Homo sapiens: one gene and its partner. The main gene of each other region encodes a partner of the protein of the gene in region 2 in a complex. Each region holds a gene or a part of one and is shown on either strand. Other genes may lie near its edges. The genes, in order: PRSS1 and SPINK1. A codon is read from its position in the direction of its gene.

What was found.
Region 1: the proteins of SPINK1 (region 2) and PRSS1 are in contact, whole or in part, in a crystal structure (PDB 7QE9), measured with the Homo sapiens proteins. Residues at the interface, in NP_001341895.1 of Homo sapiens: Tyr33, Glu35, Leu36, Asn37, Gly38, Cys39, Thr40, Lys41, Ile42, Tyr43, Asp44, Pro45, Pro55, Asn56, Val59, Phe62; in NP_002760.1 of Homo sapiens: Tyr45 (codon at 2,010), His46 (codon at 2,007), Phe47 (codon at 2,004), Cys48 (codon at 2,001), His63 (codon at 1,956), Cys64 (codon at 1,953), Lys66 (codon at 1,947), Arg101 (codon at 783), Lys102 (codon at 780), Thr103 (codon at 777), Leu104 (codon at 774), Tyr154 (codon at 221), Tyr175, Lys178, Asp194, Ser195, Cys196, Gln197, Gly198, Asp199, Val214, Ser215, Trp216, Gly217, Asp218, Gly219, Gly227.

What each region holds. Positions count from the first base shown.
Region 1 is NC_000007.14:142,744,995-142,752,656, reverse strand, and holds the start of PRSS1 (serine protease 1 preproprotein), read right to left. Parts: upstream 3,186-7,662; 5' UTR 3,173-3,185; coding exon 3,133-3,172; intron 2,103-3,132; coding exon 1,943-2,102; intron 884-1,942; coding exon 630-883; intron 227-629; coding exon 90-226; intron 1-89. UniProt on the Homo sapiens protein: Has activity against the synthetic substrates Boc-Phe-Ser-Arg-Mec, Boc-Leu-Thr-Arg-Mec, Boc-Gln-Ala-Arg-Mec and Boc-Val-Pro-Arg-Mec. The single-chain form is more active than the two-chain form against all of these substrates.
Region 2 is NC_000005.10:147,823,926-147,828,787, reverse strand, and holds the end of SPINK1 (serine protease inhibitor Kazal-type 1 precursor), read left to right. Parts: intron 1-659; coding exon 660-766; intron 767-4,081; coding exon 4,082-4,127; 3' UTR 4,128-4,206; downstream 4,207-4,862. UniProt on the Homo sapiens protein: Serine protease inhibitor which exhibits anti-trypsin activity. In the pancreas, protects against trypsin-catalyzed premature activation of zymogens.

The DNA of each region.
Region 1 (7,662 bases), on a different chromosome or scaffold from region 2:
CCCCACCACCTTTTGAGTTCAAATCCTTTTCCCTGGTGGGGCCTAGGTATCAGTGGGAGCCTCAGCATGGGAAGGGTTGGTCAAATCACCTGACATGAATCCTTGCCTCCCTCAAGGAAGCCCACACAGAACATGTTGCTGGTAATCTTTCCAGGGTAGGAGGCTTCACACTTAGCCTGGCTCAGCACAGGAGCATCCAGGCACTGCAGCTCGTCTGGGTAGTCGGCTGTGAGGATCAGGAAGAGATCAAAGGAAGTAGAAATGTGGGTCAGGCCAGAGAAGGAGACAATAATCTTGGATGGAAAACTGAAGAGGAACACAGCCCCTGGAGAGGACTCCAGAACATAAGTCCTGGCAAGAGACTCTGGCTTTTAGTTCCCAGAATGATCATTGTTGAACCCCTCCCAAGATGTGATCATATCAAGTTCTCCATTTGTCCTGTCTCTTGATTTTAGGAGCCAAGTCCTTGATAGTTTGCATCTCTCTGGTGCCCAGTGCAGAGTCTGTGTGTAATGGGCACTCGAAATGTGTCTTAAGCCTGGAGGTGAGAGGATTCAAGTTAAGGGGCATGGTTTGTTCTGGAAATTGTGAGGATGGAGGGAAGTAGAAGGACTAAGGGTCCCACTCACCGCCAGAGCTCGCAGTGTTGCCCCAGCCAGAGATGAGGCACTTCGTGCCAGTGGCTGGAGGGGCGGTGGGCAGAGAGATGGTGGACACGCGGGCGTTGATTACTGCACGTGAGGAGAGCTTGATTAACATGATGTCATTGTTCAGAGTCTTCCTGTCGTATTGGGGGTGGCGGATGATCTTGGCTGCATTGATGAACTGCTCATTCCCCTCCAGGACTTCGATGTTGTGCTCTCCCAGTCTCACCTGGATGCGGCTGATGGGCAGGGCAGGCATGGTGAAGACCTTCTCCCACAGCCAGGGCACCTATCCCACCTTCCCCAGGTTCCTCAAGCTCTCTGCTCATGGACAGCTCTGGAGGCATGGGGTGGGGTGTGTGGCCATATCGCATGGGCAGCAGAGGGATGTGGGTCAGTGAAGGTATGAGACCCAGGACCTATCTGCTCCAGAGGTTGGTGGTAGTGGGGTGGGGAAGAGTCAAAGGGATCCCACCAGAGGCTGCTCCTCAACCTGCCTCCCCAGACTCTTTCCCACAATCTCCACAGTCACTAGCACTGTGGGCACAAGGAGCTCCTTGAAGTTTTCCCAGCGTTCTTCACCCCAGGCCTTTGCCAACTGTGCACAGTGCCTGTTCCTCCCTCCATTCTTGGCCTGGTGAGAACCACCCTTCTGTGTAATCTAATCCAAGGGTAGCCATAGCATTAGCATCTCCTGGGAACTTGTTAGAAATGTGAATTCTTGGTCCTTACCCCCACCTACTGATCAGAACCTTGGGGAAGGGGCCCAGTGATTTGTGCCTTAACAAGCCTGCAGGGCGTTCTGATGCATACTCAGGTTTGAGAGTTCTTGGTGTAGGCAGCAGTTCTCAGCTCTGTCTATACACTCTACAGTTAGCAGAGGTAGAGTGTAAAATTCTCACTGATATTCACACCCTCTTCCTGAAAATTTTGACTTAATTGCCCTGGGATAGGACAAAGGCATCTGTATTTTTAAAAAGTCTTTCTTAGTTGGCTTTAATGTGTAGCTAACCAGCAAAAGATACTTGCCTGCTTTTCTCACTAGCTCTCACCACCCCAAGATCATCCCTGCCTGCTTTTATGACCACAACCCTTGCTGTTTCATGGATTTGCCTGGGTGTGAGAGGTTCCTGTCTTGTGTTCACTCTCTGCTCTGGAGAGTCCGCAGCTGCCAACAAGTTTTCTTCTCCACCACCTCTCCCATCCATCTTACCCAACCTCAGTAGTTCCCTGGGCTGAAGCCAAGCTCTCCCAGGCAGACTGGCCGGGAGCTTTGCAGTCGGGGGCCCCACACTTACGACTTGTAGCAGTGGCCTGCTGATACCACCCACTGTTCGTTGATGAGGGAGCCACCACAGAAGTGGTAGCCAGAATTCAGGGACACCTGGTAGGGGACAGAATTCTCCTCACAGTTGTAGCCCCCAACGATCTTGTCATCATCATCAAAGGGGGCAGCAACTGGAGTGGAGATGGGAAGGGAGAAGGCAAGTCAATAGCATGTTAGGGGTGGCGCTCCCAGCCTGTGATTGCTTTCTGCTAATTAGAAATCCTTAACAAGCACAGTGAGGCTAGGCAAGGGAGGGAGCTCTGCCACCCCTGGTGATCATCACTGCCTGTGGCTCCCAAGTCTCTGTGCCTGCAGGGCACATAGCTAGGTACCCTGCGGAGGATCCGAGCTCTCCTGGGGTCACCAGGCTGAAGTCGCAAGGAATGTCCTCACAATGCTTCCAGTGGGATAGGAGTTGGGATGTGGTTGTCTCTCCCACTGAGTGCTTCTCTCTTTTATTCATCACCTGTGTACTTCCCCTGGCTATTTGGGCCCTGGATTGTCAGGATTCTTTTGCCAAGCTAGGAAAACCCCCTGTCTGCATAGACCTGGCCATGACCACCTTCCCCCATAGCTCAGATCTGTGCAGTCAGGGCAGAGTTGAGGGCAGCCCCCAGGCTCACTTTGGCAGAACAAAGGTAGACTTTGTTATTGGCCAATAGGACAGCAATTCTTAACCTTGGCTGCATGGCTGGAAATATTAAAAATCACCTGGGAAGCTTAAAAGCCCAGAACACAAGCTCTACCCCAGACAATTGAAGTTAGAATTTCTAGAGCTGAGTCTCTGGCATGAGTAATTTTTCAACCTCCCCAGGTGCATTCGAGGTTAGGAGCAGCTATAGTGGTGCTATTCTGTTGCTGTTGGAGCCAAGCCTGAAGCCTGCTGCTTCATTTCGTGGGACAGCCCCACCTGGCCCCCTTCCCAGCTTCTCCAACCACAACTCGGATATGGATGAATGACAGTGGTGGGAGTGAAGTCAAGGAGAAGGTGAACAGGTGAGACTTAAAAAGAGCCCAAGGAGGATGGGAAGGAGATATGCCAGATGGAGGAAACGGAATATCAGAGCACAGTCAAAAGAGGAGAGGTGGTAAGAATGGAAGGGCATTTGTCGGCCAGGAACGGGGGGGTGGTTGGGGCCTGAGGCAGGGCATGATACTCACGAGCAGCTGCCACAAAGGTAAGGATCAGGAGTGGATTCATGGTGGTAGAGTGTGCCTGACTGGTGGTGGAGGACTCGTCTTTATACCTCACGAGGATCCAGAGAGGAGGTGACTGTGAGGTGAGGGTCACCACTCCTCCCAGCACAAACACACCTGCAGCTTTCCTCTTCCCAGGGTCTTGCATCAGCCTGGCTATGTTTGGCCACTCTCTGGGTTTGTGATTCACAGGTGATAAGGAAACTTTCCTTCTGAGAGCAGAGAGCGAGACCGGCTGTTTCCTGCAAGGATACTGGGATGGGGAAGACAGGGAAAGTCAAGCCCCAGATAACAGAGCTGGGCTTTCTTAGGCCCTGGAGATGAGGGTTAGAAGGAGGGAGAATGGCCTAGCTGTTTACAAATCTTTCCACCTATTGGGAATGTATTTAATGTACTTAAGGAAGGGCAAGCATTGGTAAAAAGCTTGGATTTCAGTTTCCTGGGGCCCACATGAGAGGAGCAAAGTCTTATCTAAGGCTCATTCCTGTGAATATGAAGATGCTTCTCTCCAGTCAGTGTGCAGGAAGGTCAAATGCAAGATTTTGGGGAATGAAAATTCCAACACTAAGGGGTAAGGAGAAGGGAGACTCAGCATTCCATAGGATTCTGGGCTTCCAGATTTCTCTCCTTCCTACCAAGGCTTAAGGATGGGAAGTGTTTCAAAGAAGGAGGGGGCACAGTTTCTGTAGGAGCTTTCTCAGTGCCTCTGGAGGATGGAAAACCAATGGCGCACTCCTCCCCTTCTTCAATGTGAAGACATTTGTCTCTCTCATGTGCATCCTGTCATAGGTTCTTTTTATGCAGCCTCACTGTTGTCCTTGCAATCTGCACTCAGGTGATGCAAACTGACCCACCTGCTCAGGGCTGACAGTCTGAACCAGAATGATCAGATGATCATTTTCTATTTTCGATGCAGTGAGATTATGCTTGGCTCAGTACAAAGTGAATCTTCCTAGAGAATATCCTGATTTGGGCCCTACCAAGGCTACTAAGACACAGTTGTGTAATTGACTGAGGCACAACCTGGCCAGAGCAGTGTGGAAATGGAGATGCTGTCTGTGCTCAAGTCTAATGATGTAGGGAAAGGAGGAGCTTCCTTATGAGGGTGCTTTCCCTTCTCAGCAACTCTGAGCTCAGGCTGGTGATGGGCAGGAGTAAGTAGAGTTCAAGTTTGGATTCTTTGAAAGGTAAAAGAAGCAGAAATGTTCTAGAGACGGTGGACAAAATGGGAAAAGCTCAGAAACTTGGTGTTGAAATCGGACCTGGCCAGGGGGCTAGAGGGAGGAAGCAAATGGAAACCAGAGGGAATTGGAAATAATGCCAAAGTGGGGCCCATGGTGTTGAGAGGACACACAGAGTACCTTCGGTTTCAGCTCCTGGTATGGCTGCTGAGCCAGCTTCCCCACAGCCAGGAGACCCACTGCTTGGAGACCCCCTCTCCGCCTCGCACCCCCTCTAATCACTAATGGGCCCATACCTAACACTGCTATGCTTAGATGGTGCACAGTGCCTGACAACTTTACAAGAGTTTTCATGTAAGCAACAGTGGTACATTACTTTTCATTTATGCTGAGTTTCACACTTTAACTTCCCACAAACATGCTAATTGTAATTTGTGCAGAGCAAAATTGTTTCCATTTATAGAGCAAGAGACTGAGATTCAGAAGGATTCTGTCTTGCCCAAGAATACAGATCTTGGCAGAGCTGACCATAAGGCCAACAGAAGCCATGGAGAGCATTGTGAAGTGTGGGAATTTCATCTAAGAGGAGGTATCTAAAAGGAGATTTATTGAGGATCAAGACAGAGGTCCCTAGAGGACAAACTGTACATCTGATTCCTTCCTGGTGCTTTTCTTCCTGGTAGAAATGGATGATTGAATTTATCTTTCTCCTGGCACCTAGTCTCAGAGCATTACCATGCCACAGTTCGAGACCCATCCAGGCCATGACTGCCATGTAGATGACAAACTTCTCTGCTCACGAATAACTTGCCAAGCCTGAGGTAGCCAGGTTTTGGAGCATTGATAAAATGGGCTTTTCCTTTGTTGTCCCTGAACATGTTGTTTCATTTTGTCCCTTGTCATGGGGTCTTCACAGAACACCTGCCTTAGAGGATAAGGAGAGACTCCTGCTCTAACAACTGTAGATACTAGTGTGCACTAAACAGGGAGGTGAACCTTGGTAGAAGATGGAAAATTTTTTTGGAAAAGGGGATTTTTGGATCAGTGCTTGTGGCTCTGACTCTCAGTCTGAAAGGGAACACCCAAGAATTTGAGGATTTTCTGTATCTAGAGCTTGAAGACTAGCCTTCTCCAGTATTTTGCGCTCTTCCTTAAATGATCGCAAAATAGTCTGAGGTCAGCTTTCTTCAGAAAGGAATGACCTTACAGGCAGAGAAGATAGCTATAGGTGGAGACTGTTACCTCATACTGTAGACTCAGATGTGTAGGATAGGTTCAGATCCAGCTGCCAAAGCTCAATTTGGAGGACATGTCATTCTTGTTACTGTTCATTCTGAATTGTAGATTTCTTTGTCTACTTCTCAAGACATCTCTCTGGCTTGTATTTAGTGCTTAGCACACTAAACCACTTTCCTTTAATTTTGATAACAGTGAGTCTTTTCTGTGTGCTTACTATATACCACATAACTTACTCTACAGCATGTAACTCATGTAAGTTAAAAATGTTTTTTTCATTTTATCATCACAACCACCTATGGGATTGCCCATTTTACAGATGATCAAATGAACTTTCTGGAGGTGAAGTGGCTTGCTCAAGGCCACACAGCCAGGAGGTTTTAAAGATGGGATGTAAGTATGGTGGTCCGACTCTAGGGCCTCCATGCTGTGCAATAGGGCATTCTGCTTTGCCTCCTCTGAGCTGATCCTTAGTGCAGCCTCACTGAGGTGGTAGGCAGCAGATATTGTTCTCTCCTTTTTACAGATGAACAATCTAAAGCTCAGAGGTCAAGTGTCTTCTCCAGGGTTACTTGTCTAAGGAAAGCAGAGATCATACTAGAAACTTCCCTATTCAGACAAAGTTTGTTCCCCTTCATGTTGCTACAGAGTTGCGTCTTTCAGACCTAGTAGTCTGCAAACTGTCATATTCCAATTTTATTTTTTAACACTTTCTTCTCCAAATCCCACCAGATCTTTCTCCTACATTCTTACTGATCTCCTCCTTGGGTTCCAGTATCTTTTATCGTTCCCCAACCAGACTGTCAGATTTTAGGCTGTCTTACCCCCAAACTCCCAGCTCCTCTCCTCATCCATTTTTTTTTCTAAGCTACTTATCTCCCGCACAGCACAATTTCTCTTTATCCAATAAGGAATTATTTTCGTTACTATATCATCCCAGGAATCATTGAATCTGGAGAGTGAAGGGAGTGCTCTGTGTGACTCGGAAAAGTCTGACTTGTAAGATGGAGTCCCAGAGCATGAACTGGTCAAGGCTGATCAGCTAAACGGAGTAGCCCATTCCTCCCCGCCTGCCTCCCGCCCCTCCTCTTGACTGCCTCTTGCCCCTCCTTCTGCCTGCCCAGCTGCTCCCCAGCTTGAAGCCATGGAAGACATGCAAGTTTTATGCCCAGAGGGAAGTTTATAGTTCTGTTTATTCTTCAGGCTTCCATGTATGGGTAAATGGGGAAGCCTCTAGCACTTGACACTAAACCCACAGTATTTTAAGGATAGATTGATTGCTCTAATATAATGGTGAGTCTTTCTGTTCACATTTCAGCCACTCCTTGACCACTCTCTTGTTTGGCCTATTAGAGCTGCTTAAGTGAGTCCAGGCTCCCTTAGACAAGAAGCAGAAGAAAGCCAGGACAGAGTGCAGGAGAAACACCCATGTAGGTTCTTATTATTGTAACATCTAGGATCTGTTTCATGATACTCAGAGTTTAATATATGATGTATGCATTTATTTTTCTAAATTATGCTAGCTCTAGACTGAGGCTCACAAGCTAGGTTTGGTGATAAATCCAGTCAACTGGGTTCCTTCTACTCATGTAGTTTATAAAAGTCTAGACTGTGTCATCCATTTGGAAGGCAGCCAATGGGTCAGTCATTTCCTCAAGATCATCTTGGCCAGGAGGGCCTTCAAAAGGCTCCTAAGGCTCAGAATTGAATGCTCCATCCACACAGGCACCAACACAATTCCAATTGAGAACTTTCCACCCCAGGGCCACTGTGTTTGAGCAGGTTCTGCACTTTGCCTCTCTATAGAACCCATATCATCTGTTCCATTTCCCAGTCTTGGGTAAGGCAGCAGAACGGGGTTGGCACATGACATATGGACCTTTCTATTCAAATACAATGCTTGTTATCTGTAGTCCTCCTACAGTTCTGTAAAACACTGGAACTTATTCCTCCTATCTAGCTGTAATTTTGTGTCCTTTAATCTTTTTGTATCCTCCCCGCAACTAAAACATAAATTTAAAACAAGAATAAAAAATATAAAGTTTGAAGTGCTTATTCCTTTCCTGTTAGAATAATC
Region 2 (4,862 bases):
TAGCTGGGTGGCCTTGGCTAATTTTATTGCTTTGTGCCTCATTATCTTCACCTGAAGAAGAATATAATACTTAGTTCACAGGATAGTTAGGAGGTTTAAACAGAATAATATATAAAAAGCACTAGAACAATGTCTAGGACAATGACAATCATTTGATGATTATAAACTCTTACTGGAGTAGAATGCAAAGACTTCCAACACCCGACAATGCCTAGTGCCTTTAAGTGCCTAATAGAAGACCAGTGTGTGTGGACTACAGTGTACAAGGAAGAACGTGCCCCAAGATGTGGCCAACCTGAGAGATGCCAGCACCCGCAGTAATTGCAAACTTGAACATTATCTCACCCATCCATGTAAATCTCACAACAACACTATGAGATAGGTGGGAAATGGTAATATCATCACTGTTTTGCAGATGAACTGACTGAGTTTCAGAAGGGCCATAGGACTTACTAATGTCACACAGCTTAGAAATAGCAGAGGCATGACTTAAAACAAGGTTTTCTGTCTCCAGATAGTAGGTTATTTCTCTTACAACACACAGTATCATTCTCCCAATCACAGTTATTCCCCAGAGAAATAAAACCATTTCAGAGATTTTGCTATGAACTCAAGAATGGAGAATAATGGGAAATGATTCTGTTTAATTCCATTTTTAGGCCAAATGTTACAATGAACTTAATGGATGCACCAAGATATATGACCCTGTCTGTGGGACTGATGGAAATACTTATCCCAATGAATGCGTGTTATGTTTTGAAAATCGGTGAGTACAAACTTGAGTTTCTTTTAAACTATATATTTTAAGTTAGTTATCTTCAAGTGTACTGATAATATGAATCTCACCCCGAGAAAAGCAAACTATTTACTTTTTCCAAAAACAGTTATCTCTTTCTTATTCTCCCTTTTATATATTTAGCATTAAATATTATTTTTTAGAAGTCACTTGTATGATAAAAGCCTATATTTTTTACAGCAAAATAGTCGATAGCTTGGATTTTTATAAAGTACACACAAAATACCTTTAATTAAAAAAATTATTAGTGGTTGCAATGATTGTGTTTTTTAAAGCCCTCAGTTATGCAAATATAAATTGTATAGATTATATAACCAAAAATATATTTTTACTTATGGATATGAAAGCCAGTTTCAGTAAAGCTTCATTTCCTCAGTGACCATAAGTAGGTGATGTGATACAGAGAAATAGATTCAACACAGATTTCCTATCTCACTCAGCAACTGAAACCTTAGCATGTCTCAAGCATCATGCTAATATTCCCTGTCTTACTTGTGCTTATGACTAAGAAAACATCATGAGCATGTATAGGATGGCTTCTTATAACTTGGGGCAAATGCCAGAAGATGAGGTGTAAATAAAGTGCAACAGGAGTGAAGCAGAGATACATATTTTTTATTAAAAGGGGCCAAGAAAGGATCCATGAAAAGAATAGAATGCCAGCCGGGTGCAGTGGCTCACTCCTGTAATCCCAGCACTTTGGGAGGCCGATGCAGGTGGATCACCTGAGACCAGCCTGGCCAACATGGTGAAACCCCATGGTGGCGGGCGCCTATAATACCAGCTACTCAGGAGGCTGAGGCAGAAGAATCGCTTCAATCTGGGAGGCAGAGGTTGCAGTGAGCTGAGATTGTGCCACTGCACTCCAACCTGGGTGACAAGAGTGAGACTCCATCTTAAAAAAAAGGAAAAAAAAAGAATAGAATGCCATTTAAATAGAGTTCTGAATTTTGGCAATATCAAAAGAGCATGCCAGGTTAAATAAAGGTGTGGAATGAACAAAGCAAATAAAAGGGATTCCACGAGTGACTTTAGTTTTTCTGAGATTGACTTGATATTAAAGACTTTGACTCAGGCTCAAATGACTGTGTAAATTTCCATTATATTCTACTGCATAAATTCCCTTTTCTGTAATGCAAACCTTCTTCTTGGGCTGTTTTAAACCATTTTGGAAAATTCTCAGAGTTTAGCAAGTATTGTGGAAATAGGACCTCTGGATGAGAGGTCTAATATCCTGAAGTTTTAGACCCAAAACATTAGGTATTCTACTTTGTAATAAATCTGTTTCCATAATTAAGACTTGTAAAAAGAATTTGAAGCCACCTGTTAGTTTTCTCATGACCCATGTTCTTGACATTAAGCTCAAACATCATATTTCCATCCAATGGGAGGAGAAAGCAAGAGAACAACAGCTTTGAGACTTGGGAAATTTCCAAGTGCCGCTCAACATTTACAGTGAAACATTAGAAAAATATTAGTAGAGGGCTGGAACACCCTATCTGCTTAGCCTCTGAAACCTCCGAGTTTCTGCTTATTCTTTCTATTTGTTCAAAACTATGTAAATATGGGAGGCACATTTGTATGCTAGAAAACATGACCTCTCTTCCTATATTTCTCAGATAAGAAAATTTAGGTCTAGAGACAAAATGTTGCTTTCTCAAATACAACATATTTCCTAATGTATGACATTGCCTTTTTCACTGTTGATTAAAAGTCCCAAACTTATTACCTAGTAACTAAAGCCAGACGCTGACCCTAGTTTGAGACAAGTAGATAATACCAAACAAGGGCTTGCAAATCAGTCTTTTTGGTGATTATGTGCTTGGCAAATATATTCAATAAACACTTTTTCTATTCCTTCTACGTCTTCAAAGGGAATCTGTACCGGCAAATTCTTTTCCATAAACCTGCATCTCCAATAGAACCTTCTATAATGATGGAAATGTTCTATGTTTATGCTGTCTAATACATAGCCACTAGCCACAAAACAGTAGCCTTAATGTGGCTAACACTAACTTAAATGTGGCTAGTAAAACTGATCAGCTGAATATTTAATATTATCTAAACTAATTTACATTTACATAGCTATATGTGGATAGTGAATATATGAAACTAGAGTGAACAGCATAGCAACTCTTGTTTATTCTGTTTAGGTGTGTGTGCTTATGTATGCTAACTGATTTGGAAATCAGTATTAATGAGCAGTTAATGATTGTGGGACAAGAAAGCATTAAAAAATCTTAAAGAGTTTGGCTGGGCATGGTGGCTCATGCCTGTAATCCCAGCACTTTGGAAGTCCCAGGCAGGTGGATCACTTTTGTTAGGAGTTTGAGACCAGCCTGGCCAACATGGTAAAACCCCGTCTCTACTAAAAATACAAATATTAGCCAGGCATGGTGGCATTCACCTGTAATCCCAGCTACTTGGGAGGCTGAGGCAGGAGAATCACTTGAACCCGGGAGGTGGAGGCTGCAGTGAGCCAAGGTCACACCACTGCACTCCAGCCTGGGCAACAGAGTGAGACTCTGTCTTAAAAAAAGAAAAAAAAGAAAAAAAGAAAAGAAAAAAAAAAGAAAAAAAAGTATATGGAAGTCAGATGTCCTTCAGTAATAGAGAAGTAGAAGAATTTTTGTAAGCCCGTACATTCAAAGAAAAAATGGTTAGAAAAATTAAAGACCTGGAAACAGTCTTCTAGGGAACAATTATAAAATTTAGAGATATTTAGTTTAGGGAAGAGAAAACTAGTTTGGTAATGGTAGTGTGGGGCGAACAGAGAGGTTTTATCTGGAGGGGAGGATGTTTAGAACTGGCAGGAATCATGTGGAATAAATATGTGATTTACTTTTGTGAGACCTCACAGATACGAATCCCCAGAGCTCTAAGATGAAAGGTCAATCAATTAGAAGGTCCAACAATAGCTCAGGCATCAGCTGAGATGGAAACCTGGTGGCGAAGGCAGAGGCATCAGGAGCAAAAGATGCAACAATAGTTTTGAGTTTAATTTCAGGGGTTCACTGTAACACCCCACGAGATCTGTAAAAACTGTAAGGACAGATATTTTTCCTTTCTGTTGTATCCTTAGTGTATTCAACAGTAATCAATAAATATTTGATGAATTAATGACTAAGTGAATGTATAAATGAATGAAAGACAGAGAAAAGATTATAAATCTCAAACCTCTCCAACTTTAAATGAAGCTGTTATTTTTCCCCCTGTTTTTCTCCCATAGTCACTTTTTCATCAGTGAAGTTTAAGCTGATATATTTTTTTTAATCTCTACTGCAGGAAACGCCAGACTTCTATCCTCATTCAAAAATCTGGGCCTTGCTGAGAACCAAGGTTTTGAAATCCCATCAGGTCACCGCGAGGCCTGACTGGCCTTATTGTTGAATAAATGTATCTGAATATCCCCTGTTGTTTCCATTTGCTTTTTCCTCAAAGGTATGTTTGATTATACCAGGGTCAGGGGACTTTGGTAAGACTGAGAATAGACCAAGTTTTAAAAACATCAGGAATCCTGTAATTTCAGACAGGGTTTCCCTCATAATTCCTTTTCTTTCCTCATCTTTCTCACATCCTGAGGTCACTGCCTTAGAAAATGTGATTGCAGATATTAAATGGCAGAGCACAGATGATCATGAATACAAGAAATTCTTTGAGGACTGGACTACTATTTTAAGGAACAATTGGAAAATACCCAGTCCAGAAACATGTTACCCATCACAGTCTGCTGATTGCAATAACTCCTTTAGGTTTCCTTGGGATTTGATTGAGCATCTATTGTGGCTGGCACAGGTCTACGTGCATGGGCATAGAGCTGCCTATATGGTGGAATAGAGTTTAGTCTTTGAGATTTTCCACTTATCTCAGAATGTAGATTTTGGGTCAGACATAATTGTCTCAAAAAGATTTGAATCATTGAGAAAACAAACAAAAAAAGTACATTTTCTTAACAAGGCTATGGAGCAGCTTCTGGACTTAGCCTTAGTTCTTCCCCAGCAGGGCCAGTTCCCCATTAGTTACTAAGGTGAATGGTGGTAACGTAGAGCCTGTGGTTGTCCCTGAT